Linked DNA regions of Homo sapiens. The protein of the gene in region 3 purifies or fractionates together with the protein of the main gene of each other region. This does not show direct contact. Each region holds a gene or a part of one and is shown on either strand. Other genes may lie near its edges. The genes, in order: STIP1, DNAJC7, AMBRA1, PSMA6, CLPB, METTL3 and ARAF.

Region 1 (3,500 bases), about 18 Mb from region 3:
AATGGCGTGAACCCGGGAGGCGGAAGCTTGCAGTGAGCCGAGATCGCGCCACTGCACTCCAGCCTGGGTGACAGAGCGAGACTCCATCTCAAAAAAAAAAAAAATCAGATTAGGATTTTAATTTTCAGAGTATTGCTGGCAAGATTTTTTTCTTTTTTTTTTTTGAGATAGAGTCTCGCTCTGTCGCCCAGGCTGGAGTGCAGTGGCGCGATCTCGGCTCACTGCAAGCTCTGCCTCCCGGGTTCAACGCCATTCTCCTGCCTCAGCCTCCCGAGTAGCTGGGACTGCAGGCGCCCACCACCATACCAGGCTAATTTTTTTTATTTATTTAGTAGAGACAGAGTTTCACCGTGTTAGCCAGGATGGTCTCGATCTCCTGACCTCTTGATCCGCCCACCTCGGCCTCCCAAAGTGCTGGGATCGCAGGCGTGAGCCACTGCGACTGGCTATTGCTGGCAAGATTTTTTTTTTTGAGATGGAGTCTCACTCTCACCCAGGCTGGAGTGCAGTGGCATGATCTCGGCTCACTGCAACCTCCGCCCCACTGAGTTCAAGCGATTCTCCTGCCTCATCCTCCTGAGTAATTGGGATTACAGGCGCCTGCCACTGCGCCCAGCTAATTTTTTCGTATTTTTAGTAGAGACGGGGTTTCACCATCCTGGCCAGGCTGGTCTTGAACTCCTGACCTTGTGATCCACCCACCTCAGCCTCCCAAAGTGCTGGGATTACAGGCGTGAGCCACTGCACCCGGCTATTGCTGGCAAGATTTTAAAAGAAATTTACAGTCTTTATAAAATAGTCAAAATGTTATGTTACAAGAACTATTAACATTCTCAATGCACAGGCCCTCAATATTAACACATTTAGGGTTGAAATCTTGGCCAATACCAAAAACTGCAAAAAAAAAAAAAAAAAAACCACAAAAAAAAACACCAGATCACTTCCTACATGTTGTCACTGTTAAATGACAGAGAAAGAATCATGTAAGATGACCAAAGCCACTACCTAAAAAAAGATCAGGTTCAGCCAGGCATAGTGGCTTACGCCTATAATTCCAGCACTTTGGGAGGCTGAGGAGGGCGGATCACTTGAGTTCAGGAGTTCAAGACCAACCTGGGCAACACAGTGAGACCCCTTCTCTACAAATAAAAAAATTAGCTGGACGTGGCCAGGCGCAGTGGCCTGTAATCCCAGGACTTTGGGAGGTTGAGGTGGGTGGATCATGAGGTCAGGAGTTTGAGACCAGCCTGGTCCATATAATGAAACCCCATCTCTACTAAAAATACAAAAATTAGCCGGGCATAGTGGCGTGCACCTGTAGTCTTAGCAATTCGGGAGGCTGAGGCAGGAGAATTGCTTGAACCTGGGAGGCGGAGGTTGCAGTGAGCAGACACCATGCCACTGCACTCCAGCCTGGGTGACAAACAGACTCCATCTCAAAAAAAAAATTAGCTGGACGTGGTGGCACGTGCCTGTAATCCTAGCTACTCAGGCTGAGGTGGGAAGATCACTGAAGCCCAGGAGGTTGAGGCTGCAGTGAGCCACGATTGTGCCACTGTCTTTCAGCCTGGGTGAAAGAGTGAGACCCTATCTCAAAAAAAAAAAAAAGTCAAGTTCATTATTAAATAAAACAGTAAGAAACAATGGCTCAATTATTAGGAAAACAAGAAAATACCCCTATTCTTTTCCTACGCACCTGCTGGCATTTCTTGAGCACATCTGGGGTTCGGTGCTCTGCCAGAGACTTGTTATAGAAATGGATGGCATCCTTGTACTTTTCTTCTTTGAAGTAGGAGTTGCCAATTCGAGCATATGCTCTGATAAAGAAAGAGGGACAAGGACTGCTTAGGACAGAGAGATAAAGTCAGCTCCTGCAGAAAAACACACCTGCAGCTAGAAAGGCCCGCATCACTGCCTTCAACACCTTTTGTCTTGTCTCTGGTGACCTTCTTGCCAGCCCTTTCTTAACACAGCAGATTCTATGGCCAGCAGCCCTCCTCCCCATGCAGAGAAACTTAAGTCTTGGACAGCAAACCCTCCGCGCTACTCAAGGTATTCTGGAAGGTTGAGCCTACTTGGCAATCTGTCGATAGTCTTCTCGGTTTTCTCTCCCCACTTCAATGGCCTTCTCACAAAGCTCCCGGCACTTATTGTAGTCGCCCTTTTCAAAGTATACCGCTGCCAGGCAGGATGGTTAAGAAGGAACAGTCAGTCTTTGCTTCCTCCCTCAGAGACACCCAACAATTCCCTTGCCCCTTGTTTCTGGGCCTCACCTGCTTGATTGGTAATGTAAGTCATGTTAGTGGGGTCCAGCTCCTTGGCTTTGTCGTAATGCTTCAAGGCTGTGTCAAAGTCTTTCTTCTTGTAGGCATCGTTCCCCAGCTCTTTTTCTTTCAGTGCCTAGATGAGGTTTAGAAGTGAGTGCTGAGCAAATCTAACTCAGGTGACAAAGCAAGAATCTATGATCTGTCACAAGTTCTGAAATGCAACTAACATGAATAGAATTCTATCAAGTTCTCCTGAAGGCCTCTTCATCAGTCAGCTATAGACAATAAAGTATCAGCCGTTAGAATGAAAACTAACTTCATCTTTGCTTGCTCTGAAACTCCCCCTTTTCCACCTACTCTCCTAGATCTTTGTCAGGAAGCAGAGCGCTTCTTTAGGGGAGAGGAAATCCCTTCGACTTGAAGCAACCGGTGAGGACAGCAGAGTTTTGGACCAGGCTTTATTCTGAGGCTGCAGCAGATCTGGTGTCAGTCTTGTGGTTGCCTCAGGGTCTTAGTTGTCAGGGAACCATAGCAGAGGGGGTGGTGAGAGGATGAGAAGCGGCTGAGTGGCACGAGTCTTCAGCAAAGCTCACTACCGCCCACACTGGAGGGCCTTTTTCCAGCTGAGACACCCTAAACAACCAACGCTTACCCATTTCAAGGTGCTAAATTTGGCAACAATCTGCTGTTCCAGTTTACAAGGAGGGAAATGAAATCGTTGAGGCACATGCCTTCTGCTCTAAAAGAGTGCTGCTTAGCGGACACTCCCAACCACACACCATGTCCAGCCAGGAAGCAAAGGCCTAGGGATTGATGTGGACAACATTCTTCGGATCACGACAAGGACGTGAATTACTCTCAACTTTCCAGTCTTGCTAGGACCAACATTCACACTGGCAGCAATGAAGCCGCTGTGGTGACCACGGGAAGGGCAACTCCCGCAGCTCACTCTTTGCTACACATTACTCCTAGGAATGCTCTTGTGAAGCTTTTTTTTTTTTTTTTTTTGAGATGGAGTCTCGCTCTGTCACCCAGCCTGGAGTGTAGTGATGAGCTCTCAGCTTATTGCAACCTCTGCCTCCCGAGTTCAAGCGATTCTTCTGCCTCAGCCTCCCGAGTAGCTGGGACTACAGGCGCCCACCATGACACCTGGCTAATTTTTGTGTTTTTAGTGAAGATGAGGTTTCACCATGTTGGCCAGACTGGTCTTGAACTCCTGACCTCAGGTGATCT
Region 2 (3,500 bases), on a different chromosome or scaffold from region 3:
TGGCAATTCCTATGTTTTACCCTCACCATGGGTAAGAATATGAGTGGTTGAGGCTTTTGAGAATGGTAATAGGAGGAATATATGACTCTCAGGTCTTATTCTGAGACGTGAAATTCTATTGGCATGTGACTTACAATTTGTGTGGGGAGGCCAGATTGTCAGATAAGCAGTGTTAACCATCTCTCTTGATTCTAATATTACTTTTGGAGAGAGTGTGAGGGGCAAGCAGGACCCTCTCTTGTTTTTGGAGTTTCTGTCCTGAGAGTTCTTCCTTGGACAGTTTGCCCTGAGACAGTTAACCACCTGTTGAACTAAGGAACCAAGACAACTTTGAGAAGTGAAATACCGTTGACAATCCAGGCTCCTCCCCACTCTAGTTCCCATCTCCACCCCACCCCACTCCACCCAAAAAAACTCAGGAAGCAGCCTTTATATATATATATTTTTGAGACAGAGTTTCATTCTTGTTGCCCAGGCTGGAGTGCAATGGCGCAATCTTGGCTCACTGCAGCCTCCGCCTCCCGGGTTCAAGCAATTCTCCTGAGTCAGCTTCCTGAGTAGCTGGAATTACAGGCATGCGCCACCACGCCCGGCTAATTTTGTATTTTTTTTTTTTTTTGTAGAGACAGGGTTTCTCCATGTTGGTCAGTCTGGTCTCGAACTCCCGACCTCAGGTGATCCACCCGCCTTGGCCTCCCAAAGTGCTGGGATTATAGGCGTGAGCCACTGCACCCGGCCTAGGAAGTAGCCTCTTTCTTTCTCTCTTTCTGTCTGTCTCTTTCTTTCTTTCTTTCTTTGTGATGGAGTCTTGCTGTGTCTCCAGGCTGGAGTGTGCAATGGCACGATCTCGGCTCACTGCAATCTCCGCTTCCTGGGTTCAAGCTATCCTCCTGCCTCAGCCTCCTGAGTAGCTGGGACTACAGTTGCATGCCACCATGCCCAGCTAATTTTTTATATTTTTAGTAGAGACGGGTTTCACCATGTTGGCCAGGATGGTCTTGATCTCATCACCTCAGGATCTGCCCGCCTCGGCCTCCCAAGTGCTGGGATTACAGGCGTGAGCCACTGCGCCAGGGCAAAGCAGCCTTTTCCTTAATTGTAGTTCCTCAGTTTTAAATTTTTGATGGGTGCTGGTGTCCCTATAGTGGGAGATGTCACAGAATAGGGAACCGAGGGATGGAAAATGGTGGGTTTGGGGATATGTTATGAAAACAAGCCTCTGGCTAATGCTGAAAAGCCAGTGACTTGTATCCTCAGAATGGTTTCAGAGAAGCATGTTTCCCAGAAGTAGCTTCATTGTTGGGTCTCCTCTCCCCAGGGATAAGTGAAGGTTAGGTAGATGTAATAGATTGTGACACCTCTCATTTAAGGACCTAAAATAAATTTCCAACTCACCGTTGAGACAAGTATTTCCAAGTGAATATGTTTCTGCCTGCAGTGATGGGATTTCTGTAGGGATTGAATTGGTTGCTTGCTTTTTCTTCCTTACTGAATAAGGCATAGCCAGCTGCATAGCCAGGCACAGCTTGCTGGCTGGTGTCCGTCCCTGCCTGAACAGTAGGGAGTGCTGCTGCTTTGTGTAGACAGTCTGTGACTCCTCTGGTGCATTTTGGGTCCCTTCTGACTCTGCCCGTGTTGAGGCTTCTCCTTGAATGTCCACCCAGAGGACAATTTGAACTGGTATGTTAAGGAATTTTCTTCATCTTCTGCCTTCTCTTTATTAGCGGAGATGTGTGGAGGGTTGTTCCATTTGTGCTTTAAAGTGAAAACTATCTATTCTGTAGGAAATTGGGTAAAGAAAGCTGAGTAGCAGATAGCTTTGCTAAAAGGTAGCAGTTGGATAGCGCTCACCTTCTATTTTTTTCTGGATGAAGCACCGAGCATAAATACCTTGCCATATTTATAGAATTATTCCAAGTCATATATCTATGGCCCGGCGTGATGGCTCACGCCTTTAATCCCAACACTTTGGAAGGCAGAGATTGGCGGATCACTTGAGGTCAGAAGTTTGAAGACCAGCCTGGCCAACATGGCAAGACCTCATCTCTACTAAAATAAACAAAGATTAGCCAGGCATGGTAGTGGGGCCCTGTAATCTCAGCTACTCAGGAGGCTGAGGCAGGAGAATCACTTGAACCTGGGAGGCAGAGGTTGCTGTGAACTGAGATCACACCACTGCACTCCAGCCTGGGCAACAAGAGTGAGAGTCTGTCTCAAAAAATATATGTCTGACCCGGCGCGGTGGCTCACGCCTGTAATCCCAGCACTTTGGGAGGCCGAGGCGGGCGGATCATGAGGTCAGGAGATTGAGACCATCCTGGCTAACACGGTGAAACCCCGTCTCTACTAAAAATACAAAAAAATTAGCTGGGCGTGGTGGCAGGCGCCTGTAGTCACAGCTACTTGGGAGGCTGAGGCAGGAGAATGGCGTGAACCTAGGAGGCGGAGCTTGCAATGAGCCGAGATGGCGCCACTGCACTCCAACCTGGGTGACAGAGCGAGACTCCGTCTCAAAAAAAAAAATCTATATCTATATATATATATCTATACCTGTGACTTCCACTTATCTATGTGAAACTTATATTGACATTTCACTTGTAGAATAGTAGATTTTTTTTTTTTTCTTTTTTGAGACGGAGTCTCACTCTTGCCCAGGCTGGAGTGCAATGGCACAGTCTCGGCTCACTGCAACCTCCGCCTCCTGGGTTCAAATAATTCTCCCGCCTCAGCCTCCCGAATAGGTGGGATTACAGGCACCCTCCATCATGCCCGGCTAATTTTTGTATTTTTGTAGAGATGGGGTTTCACCATGTTGCCTAGGCTGGTCTTGAACTTCTGACCTCAGGTGATCCACCCTCCTTGGCCTCCCAAAGTGCTGGGATTATAGACATGAGCCACCTTGCCCAGCCTAGATTTTTTTTTAAAAAAGAAACTTCTTACCGGGCACATGCCTGTAATCCCAGCTACTTGGGAGGCTGAGACAGGAGAATCAGTTGAACCTGGGAGGCGGAGGTTGCGGTGAGCTGAGATCACGCCATTGCACTCCAGCCTGGGCAACAAGAGCGAAATTCTGTCTCAAAAAAAAAAAAAAAAAAAAAAAAGGCAGTTTTTTCTGGCCAATTGTGGTGGCTCATCATGTGTGTAATCTTAGCACTTTGGGAGGCTGAGGAGGTGGATTGCCTGAGCTCAAGAGTTTGAGACCAGCCTGGGCAACATAGTGAAACCCCATCTCTACTAAAATACAAAAATTTAGCTGGGCATGGTGGTGCGTGCCTGTAGTCCCAGCTACCAGGGAGGCTGAGGCACAAGAATCGCTTGAACCTGGGAGGTGAAGATTGCAGTGAGCCGAGATCTCACCACTGCACTCTGGCCTGGGCAATAGAATGAGACTGTCTCCAAAAAAAAAGAAATTTTTTTCTTAAAGAAGAATCTAAATGATATGCTTTTGGTAAGATGGAATAGAAGTTAGGCTCCTGGGCTCCTTTTACTTTATTTTGTCA
Region 3 (3,500 bases):
TGGACTGGGTGTAAATTCTTTCCCAGTGGCCTGTCTCCTGGTTAAAGGCCACCCCCACAGTCCTCTCCTCCTGCGGACTAGCAGAGCTGCTCAACTCCAGCCTGCTGGAGCTGGGCGTTTGGCCCTCAGTCCGCTCGAGAGGTGGCAACTGGCTGCCACTTGATGGCACACTCTCAAAGGAGCTGGGGACCTGCCAAGAGGAACTAGCCTCGCCAGAGGAGTAGTTAGGTGTGGTTCTTTCCCAGCGCAGGGTATCGTTGTTGAAGGTCAGGAGATTGTGGCAAGCACGACAGCGATTCAGGTGGCCACGGGACAGGTTGGAGTTGTTCTCACTGCTGTGTGGGGTGGGCTGGTGGGAAGGGCCTGGCCTCTCAGATTCAATGTTATTGTTGAGCATTTCCTGGGCCTGTTGGGTCTGGGGAGCTTCCCCACTCAGGCTCTGATCCAGCTCCTGAAGCCGGTCATACTCCAGAAAGAAGCGTCTCAGGTCACACTGAAGCTCATGGCGAATGCTGCCCGAGTTGTTTTGGCTGGAGCCATTCCCTCCATCTGACTCAGTTGCCAACCCTGATGCCGGAAAACCCCTCCCTTCTGTGGCTGAAGTGTACACAGATGCCTGAGAGCCACCTTCCTGCTGTCTCAGCACAGACAGCAAACTCACCGAAGAGGCACTGGTTCTGGGCGGGGGCATGGATTCCGCCTCAGAGCGGGAGTTCAGACTGAGTACTGTCCGGGTCCACTCAGATCCTGTCAACCCAGGAGCTATTTCTCGGTGATACCTAGAAGGGTGGCTAGACAGAGGCCCTCCCAAAGAGCGGCGGGTAGGACCCAGACTGAGGTTGCGGAGCGTGTTGCCGGCAGTGCTGCTCTGGACTGTACTGAAGGCAGACGGCCGGTTCAGGAGGCCCTGGTCCTGCTGCGTTGACGAGGCCTGCTCCGGGGGATGGAAGGGCTCGGTCTGTACAAAAGAAAAGGAAGGGGTAGTAGCTCTGGCAGAAGCAGGGGGGACACTGTCCTGGTGTGGCAAGAGGGAAGGAACTCGAGTGCCAGAGCAGCGGCTGCAAAGGCACAGGATCCCAAGGTGCTGGCAGCACTCAGCTGTGGGGTAACTGACCCGCTGTCGGAGCCTGATGTAAGCGGAAGTCCTGGGGCGCTCCGTGGAGGGCTGAGGGGGAGGCGGTGGGGGTGAGGGGGTAGCAGAATCTTGCACTGTGCTTTGCTCTCCCACCTGGATGCCAGAAGAGCGGGAGGACAGCATGTGCAGGAAATTGTGGAGGAGAGGCGTCCGGCGAACTGGCTGTGATTGCAGGAGGGCACGCTGACGGTAGTGGGATAATTCTGTTCCATCTATGGGGATCTCTGGTTCGTCATCACCCTGCAACGTGGACCAGCATGGGGCAGGGGGTAGAGCAAGGCAGTTAGGTAGAACCTCCAAGTAAATCAAGAAAAACTAACCACTGACAATCATCCAAGGAAAACAATGTTCATAGGTAGGAAACAACTCTCTACCCCTGAAGCACTGACAACTGGCCTCAGATTCAAAATAATCACATGGTATTAAATTTTCCACTCCCAATTAGCAGCATATCTGAATGAGTGCAGCTGACAAACCAATTGTCTTACAAAAGACATCTCCCCATGACATGGAAGCAGTGAGGGGAAGCAAAATGTCAACCAGCCAGAGGCACATGAGTGACAAGCTATCCAACACTGTCTAGTGATGATAAGGGTTACTTCTAATGAGGCAATCACTGGAGGGTTTCAGAATCGACTCTCCTGTCAAGATTATGGCTATAACCCTGAATATACAGTCTGAAGCTAGCTTTAAATCTTGACTGGAAAGATAAGACTTGGGTATTGAGAATTAAAATCCAATATAATCAGAATTGGAATACTAGTTAAGAAAAGAACTCACAGTTTAGCTGGAATTGGAACTGCTGGACTAACTTACCTGTTGATTAGAGGGGTTAACAATTGCTGTGAGTAAGTAGTGTCCAAGTGGATCAAATCTCACCAGACTAAAATCACAGAAGAAAGAGACAAAGACACACATAGAGAGATTATGTTAACTGAGAAGAGGAAACTTGTGTTTGAATTTATAGCAATCATTACTGATAACTGGTATCACTCAGGTATCCACTTCATTCAAGACTTCCAAAACTTTCAAAGAGATTAAAATAGTAACACTCAATACTTCTTGCCAGAGTAAAGGAATATGTATCACAAAAATAACGATTTCACATGAAAAACACCTAGAGTTGCCATCCCAGGAAACAGCTACCTTAAGCACACCTTTGCTCAAATACAAGAGTTCATCCTAACCGTAAAGCATAAAATGCTCTCATACTCTGCCACAGAATCAGTTCTTCCCTCATATGGCAGCTACACCGGCAAGAAGCATGAATCTTGGTGGCAATGAACAGTCCCAGCATTAAGTGACATAGCTGAAACCAGAAAATTGGCCTGTATTCGACTGGAAATCCAAGAGGACCAAAGAAACACAATGCATCAACTTTAATACAGACAATATGTTTTGATCTTGAGGACTAAATAAATGTCAATTATGTGCTTACATCTCCATCTTCCAGTTTGATAAACACAGACAACCCACCAAGGTATCTAAAATACCACCCAAACTTCTTTCAGGTTTTCCCAAAGAAGTACTATCCAAAACAGTTAGCTTTGAAACTAAAAGAGAGTCTAATGACCCTGATCTCCAAAAACCAGAAGATGAGGCCAATAAGGGAAAGCTGAAATGAACAAAATGAATGTCTCCCAGCTGATTAGTCAGCTGCTTAGAAAGCAGGAGGCGGCCAGGTGCAGTGGCTCATACCTATAATCCCAATACTTTGGGAGGCTAAAGCAGGAGGATCACTGAAGGCCAGTAGTTCGAGACTAGCCTGGGTAACACAGTGAGGCCCCGCCCCCCAAATCTCTACGAAAAAATTTAAAAATTAGCTGAGAGAGGCTGCACACACCTGTAGTCCCAGATACTCATAAGACTGAGGTGGGAGGATTGCTTGGGCCCATGAGGTCAAGGCTGCAGTAACTTGGGCCCATGAGGTCATGACTGCACAACTGTACTCCAGCCTGGGTAACAGAGCAAGACCCTGTCTCCTTAAAAAAAAAAAAAAAGCCGGGGGGGGGGGGGTGGTGGTGGGCATGGTGGCTCATGCCTGTAATCACAGCACTTTGGGAGGCTGAGGTGGGCGGATCACTTAAGGCCAGGAGTTCAAGACCATCCTGGACAACATGGTGAAACCCTATCTTTATTAAAAATACAAAAAAATGAGCCGGGCATGGTGGTGGGTGCCTGCAATCCCAGCTACTCTGGAGGCTGAGGCACGAGAATCGCTTGAACCTAGGAGGCAGAGGTCGCAGTGAGACAAGACTGCGCCACTGCACTCCACCCTGGGTGACAGAGTGACACCCTGTCTCAAAAAAAAAATAGGAGGAGCTATGAGGATGACAACTTGCCCTGAGCAGGGATAACAACCTGA
Region 4 (3,500 bases), on a different chromosome or scaffold from region 3:
CAAACTCTGGCTCAAGTGATCCTCCCACCTTAGGATTACAGGCATGAGCCACTGTTCCTGGCCTGGGCACATATTTTGTAATCAGGGGAAAAGCAACAAAAATCAATACATGCTCATGGTAGAAAATATGAAAACACAGAAGATAACTTTTAAATAATTATTCATAATCCCAATCATTATTTACATTTTGACATATAACAGATTATTTCAAAATTCTGTCTTCGAGTGTCACTCTGGGCACTGAGTCTGAGCCAAGGCCTCATCTGTTCAAAAAGCCACAGGTGATGACGACCAGCTAAGAAAGCTACTGCCTATCAGGCTAAAGAATCTCTTTTAATAGAAACTGTAATAAATCATCAAATATTTCTAAATGGCTAACTATTTAAGAGAGAACAAAAGAACAGAGCAAAAATGATTCTAGAAAAATCACCTTAAAGGAAATCCTCAGCTGGGTGCAGTGGCTCACATCTGTAATCCTAGCAATTTGGGAAGCCAAGGTGGGAGGACTGCTTGAGCCCCGGAGTCCCAGGCCAGCCTGGGCAACATGGCAAGACCCTGTCTCTACAAAAAAATGTTAGCTAGGCATGGTGGTACACCTGTGGTCCCAGTTCCTTGGGAGGCTGAGGCAAGAGGATCACTTGAGCCCAGGAGGTCGAGGCTGCAGTGAGCCGTGCTCACACCACCGTACTCCAGCCTGGGCAACAGAGCAAGACCCCATTTCAAAAAAAAAAAAAAGAAACAAAAGAAAAGAAATCTTCAAATATGGCTTGGATTTAACTGGTTTTATCATTATTATCATTATTGAGCAAGAGACAGCATCTTGCTCTGTCACCCAGGCTGAGTGCAGTGGCACAATCATAGCTCACCACAGCCTCAAACTTCTGATTCAGACCCTCCCACTTCAGTCTCCTGAGCAGCTGAGACTACAGGTGGGTATCACCATGCCTAATTTAAAACAATTTTTTAGAGATGGGGTCTCACTACATTGCTCAGGCTGGTCTCAAACTCTTGGCCTCAAATGATCCTCTTGCCTCGGCTTCTGGAGTAGCTGGGATTACAGCAGGTATGAGCCATAACCCCCAATTTAATTGGTTAATTATAATAGCAAAATTTTACCATCCCATTACACTACAAATAACTTTTTTTTTTTTTTTTGAGATGGAGTTTCACTCTGTCGCCCAGGTTGGAGTGCAGTGGTGCAATCTTGGCTTACTGCAACCCCTGCCTCCTGGGTTGGAGCAATTCTGCCTGAGCCTCCCGAGTAGCTGGGATTACAGGTGTGCACAACCACGCCCAGCTAATTTTTGTATTTTTAGTAGAGACGAGGTTTCGCCATGTTGGCCAGGCTGGTCTTGAACTCCTGACCTCAGGTAGTACACCCACCTCGGCCTCCCAGATGCTGGGATTACAGGTGTGAGCGACCGCGCTCAGCCTACACTACAAATAACTTCTAAAATGTAGCTGGTGCCTCGCTATTTGTGGGGATTGGTTCTAGGACCTCCCATGGATTCCAAAATCCACAGAAACTCAAGTCTCTGATATAAAATGGCACAGTATTTGCACATCGCCTATGTATATCCTCCTGTATACTTGAAATTATCCCTAGCTTGGCCAGGCGTGGTGGCTGACACCTGTAATCCCAGCACTTTGGGAGGCAGAGACAGGCAGATCACCTGAAGTCAGGAGTTCAAGACCATCCTGGCCGACATGGTGAAACCGCATCTCTATTAAAAATACAAAAATTAGCCAGACATGGTGGCAGGTGCCTGTAATCCCAGCTACTCAGGAGGCTGAGGCAGGAAAATCGCTGGAACCTGGGAGGTGGAGGTTGCAGTGAGCTGAGATTGCACCACTACACTCCAGCCTGGGCTACAGAGCGAGACTCCGTCTAAAAAAAAAAGAAAGAAATTATCTCTAGCTTACACTACACGAGCTAATACAATGAGTGAGACTCCGTTTAAAAAAAAAAAAAGAAAGAAATTATCTCTAGCTTACACTACACTAGCTAATACAATGTAAATGCTAAATAGTTGTTATACTACATTGTTTAGCGAATAATGACAAGAAAAAAATCTGTACATGTTCAGTACAGGAGCAATTTTTTCCCTGAATATTTATGATCTGCAGCTGGTTGAATCCATGGATGATGAACCCATGAATATGGGTTGAATATGGAGGACTAGCTGTACAACTTTCAAAGTGCTTCTTGATTCTGATCCTGATATGGCTAATAAAGCTTCTATCAGATCAGCCCTCCACAAATAAAAAGTACTAACTCTAAACAAAACAACAACTACCTAAAGACACCACAAAGTCAGATTCTAGAGGGGAAGTCAACAGTTGGGAGAAAGGAATGGCATGAGTTGAGTTTCCCATTTTTGTGGCTCATAATCTGAGAGCAGTAAAGGCTGAACTCCCACAGAAAACTCAGTCTTTTTGGCCTGAAGAACTAGAGAACAGTTTGGGGTAACAATAGCTGCCAGAAAACAAGGGAGAGAAACCAGAGCACTAGAGAGTGAGAGTCCCAACTTCTATATATAAACACTGCCCAAATCTCTAGCAGATTCCATAACAACACACACAAGGCAGACTCCAAGCGGCCTAGTTAAGGATAAAAGAAACCGAGTGAGATTTAAGATGCCACCCAAGAGACAGACTTTGTAGCTTGAGAATAACCAAATTAACTGCCTATTAGAACAAAACAAGTCAATACTCTTTGGAGAAATATAACAGAATCCACAGTCTTCATAAAATAACATTCATAAATGTCCAGGATACAATCCGGAACTCTCAATATACCAAAAAACAAATCAAGTCAAACTAAAAAACCAAAACCAAAACCAAACAACAAAAACCAGGAATATTGTGTTTAATTCTCAAAAAGAACAATCCTGAGACGACCCAGATGTTGCTGTATTAGCAAAGAATTAAAAACAACCATTATAACTATGCTCAATGACATGATGGAAAATGTTCTCAAAATGAAAAATGATAGGAAATCTCAGCAAAGAAAAAATGAAAGAAGCAAAAGGAAATTGTAGAACTGAAAAATATAATACGTAAAATTTAAAAATTCACCAAATGGACGTAACTGTAGAATGGAGATGAGAAAGGAAAGAGTGAGTGAATATGAAAATGTATCAAATGATCCAATCTTAAAAAGGCAGAAAAAATAGTTGAAAAAAACAACGAATCTGTGGGTCTACATCAAAATGTGTAAGATATGTACAACTGGAGTCCTATATGGAGAGCAAAGAATCGGAAAACAAAATCTGAAGAAATAATGGCTAAAAATGTTAAAAATATGGCAAAAGACAAAAAAATTTCAGATTAAAGAACCTCAGAAAACTCCAAGCAAAATGAAAACAGAAAATCACATATAGATTCATTATGGTCCAATGTCTGAAAACCAAAAATAGAAAAAATTTTGAAAACAGAGAAAAACAAATGAAAAACATAAAGAAACTATGACATAATAAGTGTGTGTTGTTTAAACACCA
Region 5 (3,500 bases), about 26 Mb from region 3:
CTGTTGCCCAGGTTGGAGCGCAGTGGTGCAATCTCTGCTCACTGCAACCTCAGCCTCTGAGGCTCAAGCCATCCTCCCACCTCAGCCTCCTGAGTAGTGAGGACTACAGGCACATGTCACTATGCCCAGCTGATTTTTGTATTTTTTGTAGAGACAAGGTTTTGCCATGTTGCCCAAGCTGGTCTCGAACCCCTGAATTCAAGTGATCTGCCCACCTCGGCCTTCCAAAGTGCTGGGATTACAGGTGTGACCCATCATGCCTGGCCTGGTTTTGCCTCCTACTTCTCTGGCGAGTCTGTCTTGACTTCCCTGATAGGTCCCAAGGCTCTGTGTATAGCCCTCTTTTCTCTGCACATTATACACTCCCTGGGTTACAGACCTCATCCATTCCTGTGGCTTCCGTTAACCTCTCTGGGCTGAAGGATTCCTGAACTGCTATTTTCAGTCAGACCTTTCCTAAACTCCTGACCCATAAAACTGATGAACGGCCCCTTGGCCATCTCCATCTGGATGTCCCTCAGGTATCTCACCTTCAACATTTCCACACCTCAGTGCCTCACCTTCCTCTTCAATCTGCGGCTTCCCACTGTGTTCGCCGCCTTAGCTGATGGCCAACTGGCAGCAGCCAACTGGCCACCCTTGGCTCCTCCTCCTCTCCTCAGTCAACCTTCTAGTAGTTTCTCCAGCCCATGGCCTCCCCAGCTGTAGCTTGGGCTCCCCAGCAGTCTCCTTGTTAATGACCCTCTCCCTTCTCATCCATTCTTTACACAGCTGCCCACGGCATCTTTGTAAAGTGAAAATTTGACTGTTTCTTTCTTGCTTAAAGTCTTTAAAAGGCTCCTTACTCTCTACCAGAGAAATGCAAACTTCTGTGCCTGGCATTTTAACTGGGCCCTGTTTACCTTACCTACCTTGTCTCTAGCACTCTGTCCTTGTTTTCCCTCTGCAATCGAGCAGTACTGACCAGCTGCAGTTCCCTGAGCATGCCAGCCTGTTTCATGCCCTGTACTTTTATACATTAGGTTTCTACTGCCAGCCCCGCCACTCTGTTCACCTAGCACTTACTAACCCTTTGAAGGTTTGCTAACTACTGTTGAATTAAAACTACTGTTGAATTAAATTAGTCAATACAACATTTCCCCTGACTTTGTGGGCTCTGGGAATGGTTCAAGTGAACATGACAAGGGCCCATCCTCAAAGAGCCTAAATCGAGTAAACCTGGATGGCAGCTTTGGTCAATGGAACCAAGAGCATCAGAAACTATAGTAGGCTGGGGCTGGGGGAAGGGGCGACAACAGCTGCAGGAAGGAATTCCTATCAACCCCTAAAAGGCAGTCAGTGGAGTGAAGTGACGGAGGAGGGGGAGACAGGGCTTCCATGTATGGCTGATTGTACTTCAGTCAGCAGTTGCCTTCTGTTTTTTGGGCCAAGAATGCCATCAGAGGTGCCTCTCCAGGGAGACCAGAGATCAAACAGGCCGCGATGCTCACCCTCCCTCAGCGGCATGGTCCCGTCCCTTGCGTGCTTCACTGAGACGGACCTCGCTCTTTTGGCCCTAGCTGCGTGGCAGTCATTCAAGCTGCAGGATCTAGAACTGGGCTGCCTGGGTTTGAATCCTTGATTCTCTCTCCCCAGCTGCATGACCACAGGTAAATGACTTAATCTTACTTTGCTTCAGTTTCCACATCTGTTCAATGGAGGCCGTAATAATAGCTAGCTTTGGAGGGTTGTTGAAAGGGTTAAATTGATACACATAAGCCTCTGAAGACAGCGAATGGCACACAAAATGCAAAATGCCAGCTACTACCATGTCTCCTTTCCACCTGTCTACCAGGCAGAGAGCTCCAAGAGGGCACATTCGGGTCTGGTCATAGCTGTGCACTTGAATCCCATCAAGAGGCTGGAATGGAGTAGAGGCCTCAGTGTACACGTGAGTAACTGAGTATGTGACCTCTGAAGGACTGGTCTCTTCTTCCTCAGCAGAGGTTCAGGGGCAGGGAGCAGCTGAAGGGCTAGGAAGATACAACGGAACGGGCAGGGGCAAGGAGGCTGGGCCAGGTGGGGAAGGCAGTGAGCAGCTGGTAGGAGATCTGGATCTGGATCTTCCTGGCTTGGTACCTGATGTGCTGTTCGGTCTGGAGGAGTCCCCTCCCTGTGGCCTCCTATGACATGGGAAGCAAACCACCTTTTTGTTTTCCTAGGGCTGCAGGAGACTAGGTAGAAAGGTGAGCTGGACTCATGGCCAGGTGCTAGCTAATATAGCCCCTGCATGAGAGAAGAGAGGCCTCATCCCCGGTTCAGTCCTTGGCTCCTCACGCTCTCTTGATGGAGCAGGGCCCCTGAAAAGGTGGAAGTCATCTTCTTCCGTGATCGTAAGCAATCCCTCGCCTGGTTCAAGGTAAACAGTGGTATGGGGGGAGAATTGGGGCTCTGGGATCAGACATATCTGCAGCCCAATCTTGGCTCTTTACACAGCAGCTGTGGCCTTAGGCATGTCTTTTATAACCTCTCTGAACCTCAGTTTCTTCATCTGTAAAAAATGAGCTAATTTCTCCCTTGCCTGTTAGGAATTTTTCTACCTACCTTGTGAGGATTAGTGATAATGGCTGTAACGTCTTTAGTACAGGTCTAGTACACAGAAGGTACTGGATAGAAGTAAGCTCTTCTCTCCATTTAGAACTTACCCCTACGAGCAGGGGAACTGGACAGTCTGTGAGAACCCTCAGATTCTCAGAAGAGAAAGGCTCCATGAATCAGAGTATCAGCATCTCACCATTAGCAGCAACAATATTAGCATTTTAAAGAACTGCAGGAGACAATGTTTGGCACACAGGGAGGAACAAGAGCTGTCTGAGGCAGAAGGATTTTTGGGGCTTCTCTGATTCAGCCTCCTCGTTTGTCACATGAGATCTCTGATGCCTAGAGATGGGCAGTGACTTGCCAAGGCCACAAAGCCAGTCAGGAGCAGAGCTGGAACTAAAAATTCATGTCTCGCTCTCATGGCACCTCTGCCATACCATGTCTCTCTAGAAGGTGGGCTGAGCAGCCACACAATTTCAACTCTTAGGCAGGGCTGGTCTTCGCTTGAGTGCCCCACCCAGGCCCTAGTGCAGAGGGGCTAAGTTGCACCTACTGGATGAATGAATGTACACATGCGGGAGCAGGAAGCCGAGGAATGACCAGCTAGCCTCTGGGCCCTTGCTTTCTGCTGTTCACAGTCCCCCTTATCTCCAGGTGTCCCCCCGCTCCATCCTGGCCCAAGGTGACTCACCTCATCAAACAGCTGCAGCATGATGGTGAGCACATCTGGATGGGCCTTGTCTACTTCATCAAAGAGCACCACAGCATTGGGGCACTGCTTCAACTTCTTGGTCAGCTGGCCACCCTCCTCATGGCCAACGTAGCCTGGTGGAGACCCAATAAACTTGGCCACCTGGTAGAAGGAAGGAAACATGCTAGGAAGGCCTTTCTGTGCTTTTAGTTTCCAACATGGGGCATGC
Region 6 (3,500 bases), on a different chromosome or scaffold from region 3:
TTAGATGTGAATATCTCTTGATTTGTATATTTAGCTAGTAATATAGCTAAGACCCTTTTCTGTGTGTGTGTGTGTGTAAGATAAGAATCTCGTTCTGTTACCCAGGCTGGAATTCAGTGGCGTGAACACAGCTTACTGCAGTCTCGACCTCAGGGCTCAAGTGATCCTCCTGCCTCAGCCTCCTCCTGAGTGGCTAGCACCACAGGTGTACCCTACCATGCCTGCCTACTTTTTAATTTTTATTTCTTTGTAGAAACAGGGCCTTGCCATGTTGCCCAGGCTGGTCTTGGACTCTTGGGCTCAAGCTATCCTCCCACCCTGGCCTCCCAAAGTGCTGGGATTACAGATGTAATCCCAGTCTAGTTAAGACTCTTATAAAAGTATTTTTGGGGTTGTAATTAAATGTATCTTGTCTTCTGACCGAGAGCTTGATCTGACCCATCATTTGGTACTGTGGTAATAGGTAAAGATGAAACATACAAATTAAACCAGAATGTCACTGTTCTTTCTGTGTTATTTTGATTATTTCAAAGAATGTATTTTGTTGAGCTTTAGGATTCTTAGGAAACCCTTGTGAAACACTGTATTGTAAGTTTATGAATCATGTTGTCATGTAAGATATAACTCAAGACTTGATAAAAGTTCAGATTATTCCATTCGTTTCTCACCGGAAATAAAAATTTGCCTACCACATCTGTTGCCCAGGCTGGAATGCAGTGGCGCGATCTCGGCTCACTGCAAGCTCCGACTGCCAGGTTCACGCCATTCTCCTGCCTCAGCCTCCCAAGTAGCTGGGACTAAAGGTGCCCACCACCATGCCTGGCTGATTTTTTTGTATCGTTTTTAGTAGAGACGGGGTTTCACAGTGTTAGCCAGGATGGTCTCGATCTCCTGACCTCGTGATCCGCCCATCTCGGCCTCTCAAATTGCTGGGATTACAGGTGTGAGCCACCGCGCCCGGCCACACCTTGTTTTTTACAGCATTACTGAAATCTGATAATTACCGACTACTGAACTGAGTGTCAAAAGACAAGGATATAAAATGAACTAAAATGTACCCACCACATCGTTAATAGTGGAAAATAATATGGGCAAAATATTGGGAGACCTTTGTTAGATTGGCATTTTTATTATTTATTTATTTATTTATTTATTTTTTGAGACAGAGTTTCGCTCTTGTTGCCCAGGCTGGAGTGCAGTGGTGCCATCTCACCTCACTGCAACCTCTGCCTCCTGGGTTCAAGCAATTCTCCTGCCTCAGCCTCCCGAGTAGTTGTGACTACAGGTGTCCACAGCCTTTGGAAGGCTAAGGCGGGTGGATCACCTGAGGTCAGGAGTTCAAGACCAGCCTGGCCAACATGGTGAAACTCTGTCTCTACTAAAAATATAAAAATTAGCCAGGTGTGGTGGCAGGTGCTTGTTGTATGTACTACAGGCACATACAACCTTGCCTGGCTAATTTTTAGTATTTTTTGGGCAAAACGCCCAACAGGGTTTTGCCATGTTGCTTAGGTTGGTCTTGGACTCCTGAGCTCAAGTGATCCTCCATCCTCAGCCTCCCAAAGTGCTGGGATTACAGGCATAAGCCTCCATGCCTGGCCTCCTTCCTTTTGAAGGATAAATAATATTCCACTGTATGTATATAACACATTTTGTTCATTCATCCATGGGTGGGCGTTTGGGTTACTTCTACCTTTTGGCTATTGTAAATAATGCTGCTATGAACCTGGGTGTATGAATATCTCTTTGAGACCCTGCTTTAATTCTTTTTTGTTTTGTTTTTTCTTGAGACGGAGTCTCGCTCTGTCACCCAGGCTGGAGTGCAGTAGCGCGATCTCGGCTCACTGCAAGCTCCACCTCCTGGGTTCACCCCATTCTCCTGCCTTAGCCTCCTGAGTAGCTGGGACTACAGGTGCCTGCCACCACGTCCGGCTAATTTTTTTGTATTTTTAGTAGAGACGGGGTTTCACCGTGTTAGCCAGGATGGTCTCGATCTCCTGACCTCGTGATCTGCCCGCCTCTGCCTCCCAAAGTGCTAGGATTACAGGTGTGAGCCAACCACGCCCGGCCGAGACCCCGCTTTAATGCTTTTGGGCATATACCCAAAAGTGGAATTGCTAGATCATATGGTAATTCTATTTTTGATTTTTGAGGAAGCGCCATCCTAATGGGTGTTATATATCTCATGTTGGTAAAGTATATTTTTTTAAAAAGAAAAATATTACTTAAAAAAATCTTTATTTTGGCCTTGGCAACAGAGCAAGACTCCGTCTCAAAAAAAAAAACTTTATTTTAATGGAAACAAACTATATTTGGCCAGGTTTAGCACATAGTAAATATGTGAAGTGCTCCAGTATATTTCTTGAGATTGAAGATGTGCATATAGATGTTGACACGTTTAAGGATTCAGCAAATTTGTAATCAGACCATATTAATTTCAGTGGTTCTCTTAATTAAAGGGTGAATCAAGTGTTATGTATTATTTTGCTAAACCGAACACATTATTTTCGTTAGATTAGAAGCAGAATGTCAGTGTAGTTGCAGCAGAGCGGAGGCATTGAGTAAATGTGTTGAATAAATAAATGAATAAATACCTTATGAAGGATTTGGAACCCAGGGATTCTTATCATTTTCTGGACAGTAACCGGTTTTAGGGATGATAAAACTTTTCCCCAAATGTCTGTATACATACAAAACTTTGCACGTGAAAAGTTTAGGGAATTTCACCTGAATAACAATTGTATTAACCAGCAGTTAAGTTTTATCCACCACATTAAACATAAGCTCCCTCCTCCTGATAACCTTAAAAAAGGTATTTTCAGCTCTAATATTCTGAATGTAATGTTGGGGAAAAAAAACCTCCCAGGAGGTGTTATTAATACAAGGATTCATAACCAGAATTACATCACCAGATATTGGAATGAGCAGTATTAAATCAGTCAGATTACCAATGAGAAAAGTCAATACCAACTTGTAAGGACTGAAATATTTATGTTAACATGGTTCTTTTTATAGATTTCTCACTTAAAAATTTTCTCACTCACTTAATTACTCAAAGAACATCTTCAGTTACTAACTGGAGAAACTGAAAATGAAAGAAGAAATGGGTGAGAGTGGAATCCTCCCACCTCAGCCTCCCCAGCAGCTGGGACTACAGGCACAGGCCACCTTGTGTGGCTAATTTTTAAAAAAATTTTCTTTAGAGACACTGGGTTTCACCATGTTCCCCTGGCTGGTCTGGAACTCCTGGGCTCAAGTGATCCTCCCACCTTGGCCTCTCACAGTGCTGGGATTACAGAGATAAGGCACCACACCAAGCCCTGAGTCAGATTTTAATAAATTCAGTTTCCATTAGAGTGGAAAATTTTCAAATTAATGAATTATTTATTTATATATTTTTTGAGACAGAGTCTTGCTCTGTCGCCCAGTCTGGAGTGCAGTGGCATGATGTTGGCTCACTGCAGCCTCTGCCTCGTGGGTTCAAGCAATTCTCCTCCTTC
Region 7 (3,500 bases), on a different chromosome or scaffold from region 3:
CCCAGCCTCATGGCGAAACACACATACACACACACCCCCAACAGTCCCAGCCTCATGGTGAAACACACACACACACACACACACACACACACACTATACCTCTGAGCTTTCATATTCACATCTGCCTCCATCTCAGTCTTCCTCTATCCCAGAGTCACCCACCCAAGGTGTCCAGCCCCCTACCCAGCCCACCTGGGGGAAGAGGGGCCGCTCCTCCCGCTGGAACTTGAGGCAGTCAGACAGCAGGCGCCGCATGGCCTTGGGGCAGTTGCTGGAGATTTTGCTGAGGTCCGGGGACAGATAGCCACGGCCCACCATAAAGATAATCTGGGGGCAGACGGGGGCAGGAAAGGGGTGATCTGGGGTCAGGGGCTGGGAGGCCCAAGGAATTTTGTATTGAGGGACTTGGAAGGTTCATTTTTAGCGAGCTGGGGTACTGTCAGTATCAAGGCCCAGAGGATTCTCTGTCCTTGAGGACTTGGGAGGATTCTCTGCTTTCAGAACAGAGGGATTTAAATTTGGGGTTGTCAAGGATTGTAGGTATCTGGGGCTCAGAGGATTATAGGCCCACGGGTTTCTAGGAGGCTTAGGGACCTGGAAAGTACTGAGTCTCGGGAAAACATGGAGTTCTGGGTCTGGGGGAGCTTGTACTTCTGTGGGGGTCTGGGGCCTAGAGGGTTCTAGGTATCCCGGCCCTGGGGCCTGCTAGATACCCAAGGCCTAGGTGACTGTGGGTGTCCATGACTATTCCAGAAGCACAAAGGGGTTCTGTTTCTGGGGAAAAATGGGATGCTGGGAGAAATGAGATCTGGGCTTTGAGGATCTGGGGGATTTTGAGTACCCAGAGCAGACGACTATAGGCGTCTAGGGATACAGAGGGCTTTGGGGTATTTGGGGGCCTCAGGGGATTCTAGGTATAGAGATTCGGGGCATTTTGGACTTCAAAGATTTTTGTCCCAGAGGGCTGTGGATGTGAGAAGAGGGAAGTTGGGGTAGGGGAGACCCAGAGAATTTATTGTAAGTGTCTGGAGCCCAAGGGATTCTGGGAGTCCTTATCCTAGAAAATTTTAGGTTTCTGGGGAAAGTGTGGCATTTATCAGTGCAAAGGAGGGGATGTGGGGTATGGATGCCTGAGGGGATCCCTCAGCCCAGGGAACTGTGGGTAAGGTGTGGGGCTCACCTGGTCACGGCAGCCAATGTGGCTGTAAGGCAGTGAGCCAGTCATAAGCTCGTAGAGCACAACCCCGTAGGCATAGACGTCTGACTGGAAGCTGTAGGGGTTCGGGTCCTGCATACGGATCACCTCAGCTGCCTACAACAGGCCAGACCAGGCAGGGGGACCACGGAGGTCAGCAAATGGCTGGTCCACAGTCCCAGATCCCACTGGCCACACAGGGTACAACTCAGAGCCACCCACACGAGGTGGGACATGAGGAGTCCAGACACCCACATCTGGCACAGGCATCCCCGTCCCCACTTGGCCCCACACACCCCAATCCCGGAGCCCACGTCCCCATGTGCCCCCCATCCAGCCTGGCCCAACTCACCATCCACAGCACAGATCCTGAGGGCTGCTCCAAGGGCTGGGCCCCGCTCCATCGAGTCTTCACTGTGGCCAAGCCAAAGTCACCGATCTTCACCGTGAGCCCCTCATGTAGGAAGATGTCCGCCAGGGTCAAGGACCACTACAGGGACTCCTAATAGCCATGCCTCTCACCCTGCCTGGGAGGTTCCCATTGGTGCCCCTATACCACTCATCCCTCTGATCCTGACCAGGAGCCCCTTAATATCACGCAAACTATCCACAACCTTGACGTGGGCAGGGAACGCCTGCTAATGCCCCCCACACTCAGCCCCGCTGTGACTCCTGAACAGGAAGCCCCTCGGAGGGCATCCGAACCCACTATGCCTCTGATGTTGACCATAATGCCCTCCACAACTGTCAGACATCAGACTCTAACCAGAGTCCCCAAGAATAGTACCTGAACCAGCCACACCTCTGACTTCTAAGAGACTGCCATTAAAGCCCCCTGGCTGGCCACAGCTCTGCCACCTGGCAAGGAGCTCTGGGACACATGCCCCTCCCTTGTAATTCCCAGAACCCCCACAAGAGGCATCCTTCTAAGCCCTTGACACCCCCACTCAACCCCAGCCCAGGGACAGATAGATACTGTTAGACTTGAGATCTCGGTGGATGATGTTCTTGGCATGGAGGTAGCTGTGGGGGTGGAGGCAGGTGGCGGATTGGCTGGGGGTTACCTCATTTCCCCCACCCTTTCCCCCCACCCCTCCCCAGGCTGGGAGGCTCACTCCATGCCCTGGGCAGTCTGCCGGGCCACGTCGATGAGCTGGACCATGTCGAAGCGTGTGTCGGCCACATGCAGGTGATGGTAGAGGCTGGAGCCCTCACACCACTGTGTGATGATGGCAAATCCCGGCCGGGTCATGAAGCCCATAAACAGCAAGATGTTGACATGTCGCGTCTTCCTGCAGGCAGGGAGGGCAGTGTCAGAGGTGGGGAGGAAAAATAGCAACTGTCACTTACCGAGCATCAGGAGTGGCACTGTTCTTTACCTTCCTCGGTCATTTATTTTCACCCTGTCTTTTGGGGCACTCAGGACCAAAGCATTGCCAGATTCCATGAATTTGTGAGATGTGTTTACTGGGCTATGATTCTGTGCTGTGGGCTCATATGTGGAGCTTCCCCATCCGAGTCTCCCAACAAAAGCAGGAGGGAGGAATTGCTGCCCCTCCCCCTCCCTGCCTACAGCAGCATTTCTAATCATTAACATCCCCCACCCCTCTGACTCTGACCATTACCTGGGTCTGTGACCATCTCACAGATGAGAAAGCAGAATGCCAACCTTCCTCACTGATGTATCAATATAATATGGATAGATGCAGGATTAAAACATTGGTGATATATGATGATTAGAGCCTGTTCAGCAGCATGAGAAGCTTAGAGGTAAAGAGCTTGGAGTCTGGACTCATGTTCAAATCTAGGCCTCACCAGGTACTCAAGGTACAACCTTGGGAAAGACATTTAACCTCTCTGGGCCTCATGTTCCTCAACTGTAAAACTGATCATTGCATTAGCTACCTTATTCTCTGTAACATAATTGTGCCCATCTGACACAGAGGAAAAGCCAATGCCAACATCCCCAGGGTTGGTAGACGCTATCCAGTACTACCTGTAGTATATAGGTATACAGTACTATGCTACATAGTAACTATAGCAGCAAAAAGGAGACACCTGGCTTTCTTAGCGTGACTAGATGAATACTGTATTGATTACATATTACAGCAATTATAATAATTAAGCAATGATTAGATTATGGTGATGATGATAATATTGTTTAAATCAAGGTATTAGAATTAATGAATAACAAGAACCAACACTATAAACAGAACATTACCATTGTAGCCCAAGCAGAGGGGAAGGAAAGATGGAAGCCTTCCTGGCAATGCAGTAACAAGAATGGTGGCCCACACACAGACCC

What was found.
Region 1: the proteins of AMBRA1 (region 3) and STIP1 purify together in Homo sapiens (affinity purification with mass spectrometry, with the first as the bait; 2 studies listed by BioGRID). This does not show direct contact.
Region 2: the proteins of AMBRA1 (region 3) and DNAJC7 purify together in Homo sapiens (affinity purification with mass spectrometry, with the first as the bait; 2 studies listed by BioGRID). This does not show direct contact.
Region 4: the proteins of AMBRA1 (region 3) and PSMA6 purify together in Homo sapiens (affinity purification with mass spectrometry, with the first as the bait; 2 studies listed by BioGRID). This does not show direct contact.
Region 5: the proteins of AMBRA1 (region 3) and CLPB purify together in Homo sapiens (affinity purification with mass spectrometry, with the first as the bait; 2 studies listed by BioGRID). This does not show direct contact.
Region 6: the proteins of AMBRA1 (region 3) and METTL3 purify together in Homo sapiens (affinity purification with mass spectrometry; 2 studies listed by BioGRID and IntAct, with this or other methods). This does not show direct contact.
Region 7: the proteins of AMBRA1 (region 3) and ARAF purify together in Homo sapiens (affinity purification with mass spectrometry; 2 studies listed by BioGRID). This does not show direct contact.

The regions. Positions count from the first base shown.
Region 1 is NC_000011.10:64,196,171-64,199,670, reverse strand, and holds part of STIP1 (stress-induced-phosphoprotein 1), read right to left. Parts: intron 2,401-3,500; coding exon 2,274-2,400; intron 2,179-2,273; coding exon 2,076-2,178; intron 1,818-2,075; coding exon 1,697-1,817; intron 1-1,696. UniProt on the Homo sapiens protein: Acts as a co-chaperone for HSP90AA1. Mediates the association of the molecular chaperones HSPA8/HSC70 and HSP90.
Region 2 is NC_000017.11:42,007,440-42,010,939, reverse strand, and holds part of DNAJC7 (dnaJ homolog subfamily C member 7), read left to right. Parts: intron 1-3,500. UniProt on the Homo sapiens protein: Acts as a co-chaperone regulating the molecular chaperones HSP70 and HSP90 in folding of steroid receptors, such as the glucocorticoid receptor and the progesterone receptor.
Region 3 is NC_000011.10:46,542,024-46,545,523, forward strand, and holds part of AMBRA1 (activating molecule in BECN1-regulated autophagy protein 1), read right to left. Parts: intron 2,019-3,500; coding exon 1,952-2,018; intron 1,376-1,951; coding exon 1-1,375. UniProt on the Homo sapiens protein: Substrate-recognition component of a DCX (DDB1-CUL4-X-box) E3 ubiquitin-protein ligase complex involved in cell cycle control and autophagy.
Region 4 is NC_000014.9:35,302,382-35,305,881, reverse strand, and holds part of PSMA6 (proteasome subunit alpha type-6), read right to left. Parts: intron 1-3,500. UniProt on the Homo sapiens protein: Component of the 20S core proteasome complex involved in the proteolytic degradation of most intracellular proteins. This complex plays numerous essential roles within the cell by associating with different regulatory particles.
Region 5 is NC_000011.10:72,298,532-72,302,031, forward strand, and holds part of CLPB (mitochondrial disaggregase), read right to left. Parts: exon of another isoform or gene 3,434-3,500; coding exon 3,272-3,433; exon of another isoform or gene 2,202-3,271; intron 1,931-2,201; exon of another isoform or gene 1,835-1,930; intron 1,650-1,834; exon of another isoform or gene 1,432-1,649; intron 1-1,431. UniProt on the Homo sapiens protein: Functions as a regulatory ATPase and participates in secretion/protein trafficking process. Has ATP-dependent protein disaggregase activity and is required to maintain the solubility of key mitochondrial proteins.
Region 6 is NC_000014.9:21,504,841-21,508,340, reverse strand, and holds part of METTL3 (N(6)-adenosine-methyltransferase catalytic subunit METTL3), read left to right. Parts: intron 1-3,500. UniProt on the Homo sapiens protein: The METTL3-METTL14 heterodimer forms a N6-methyltransferase complex that methylates adenosine residues at the N(6) position of some RNAs and regulates various processes such as the circadian clock, differentiation of embryonic and hematopoietic stem cells, cortical neurogenesis, response to DNA damage, differentiation of T-cells and primary miRNA processing.
Region 7 is NC_000023.11:47,567,705-47,571,204, reverse strand, and holds part of ARAF (serine/threonine-protein kinase A-Raf), read right to left. Parts: intron 2,488-3,500; coding exon 2,311-2,487; intron 2,219-2,310; coding exon 2,172-2,218; intron 1,667-2,171; coding exon 1,548-1,666; intron 1,313-1,547; coding exon 1,181-1,312; intron 328-1,180; coding exon 193-327; intron 1-192. UniProt on the Homo sapiens protein: Involved in the transduction of mitogenic signals from the cell membrane to the nucleus. May also regulate the TOR signaling cascade. Phosphorylates PFKFB2.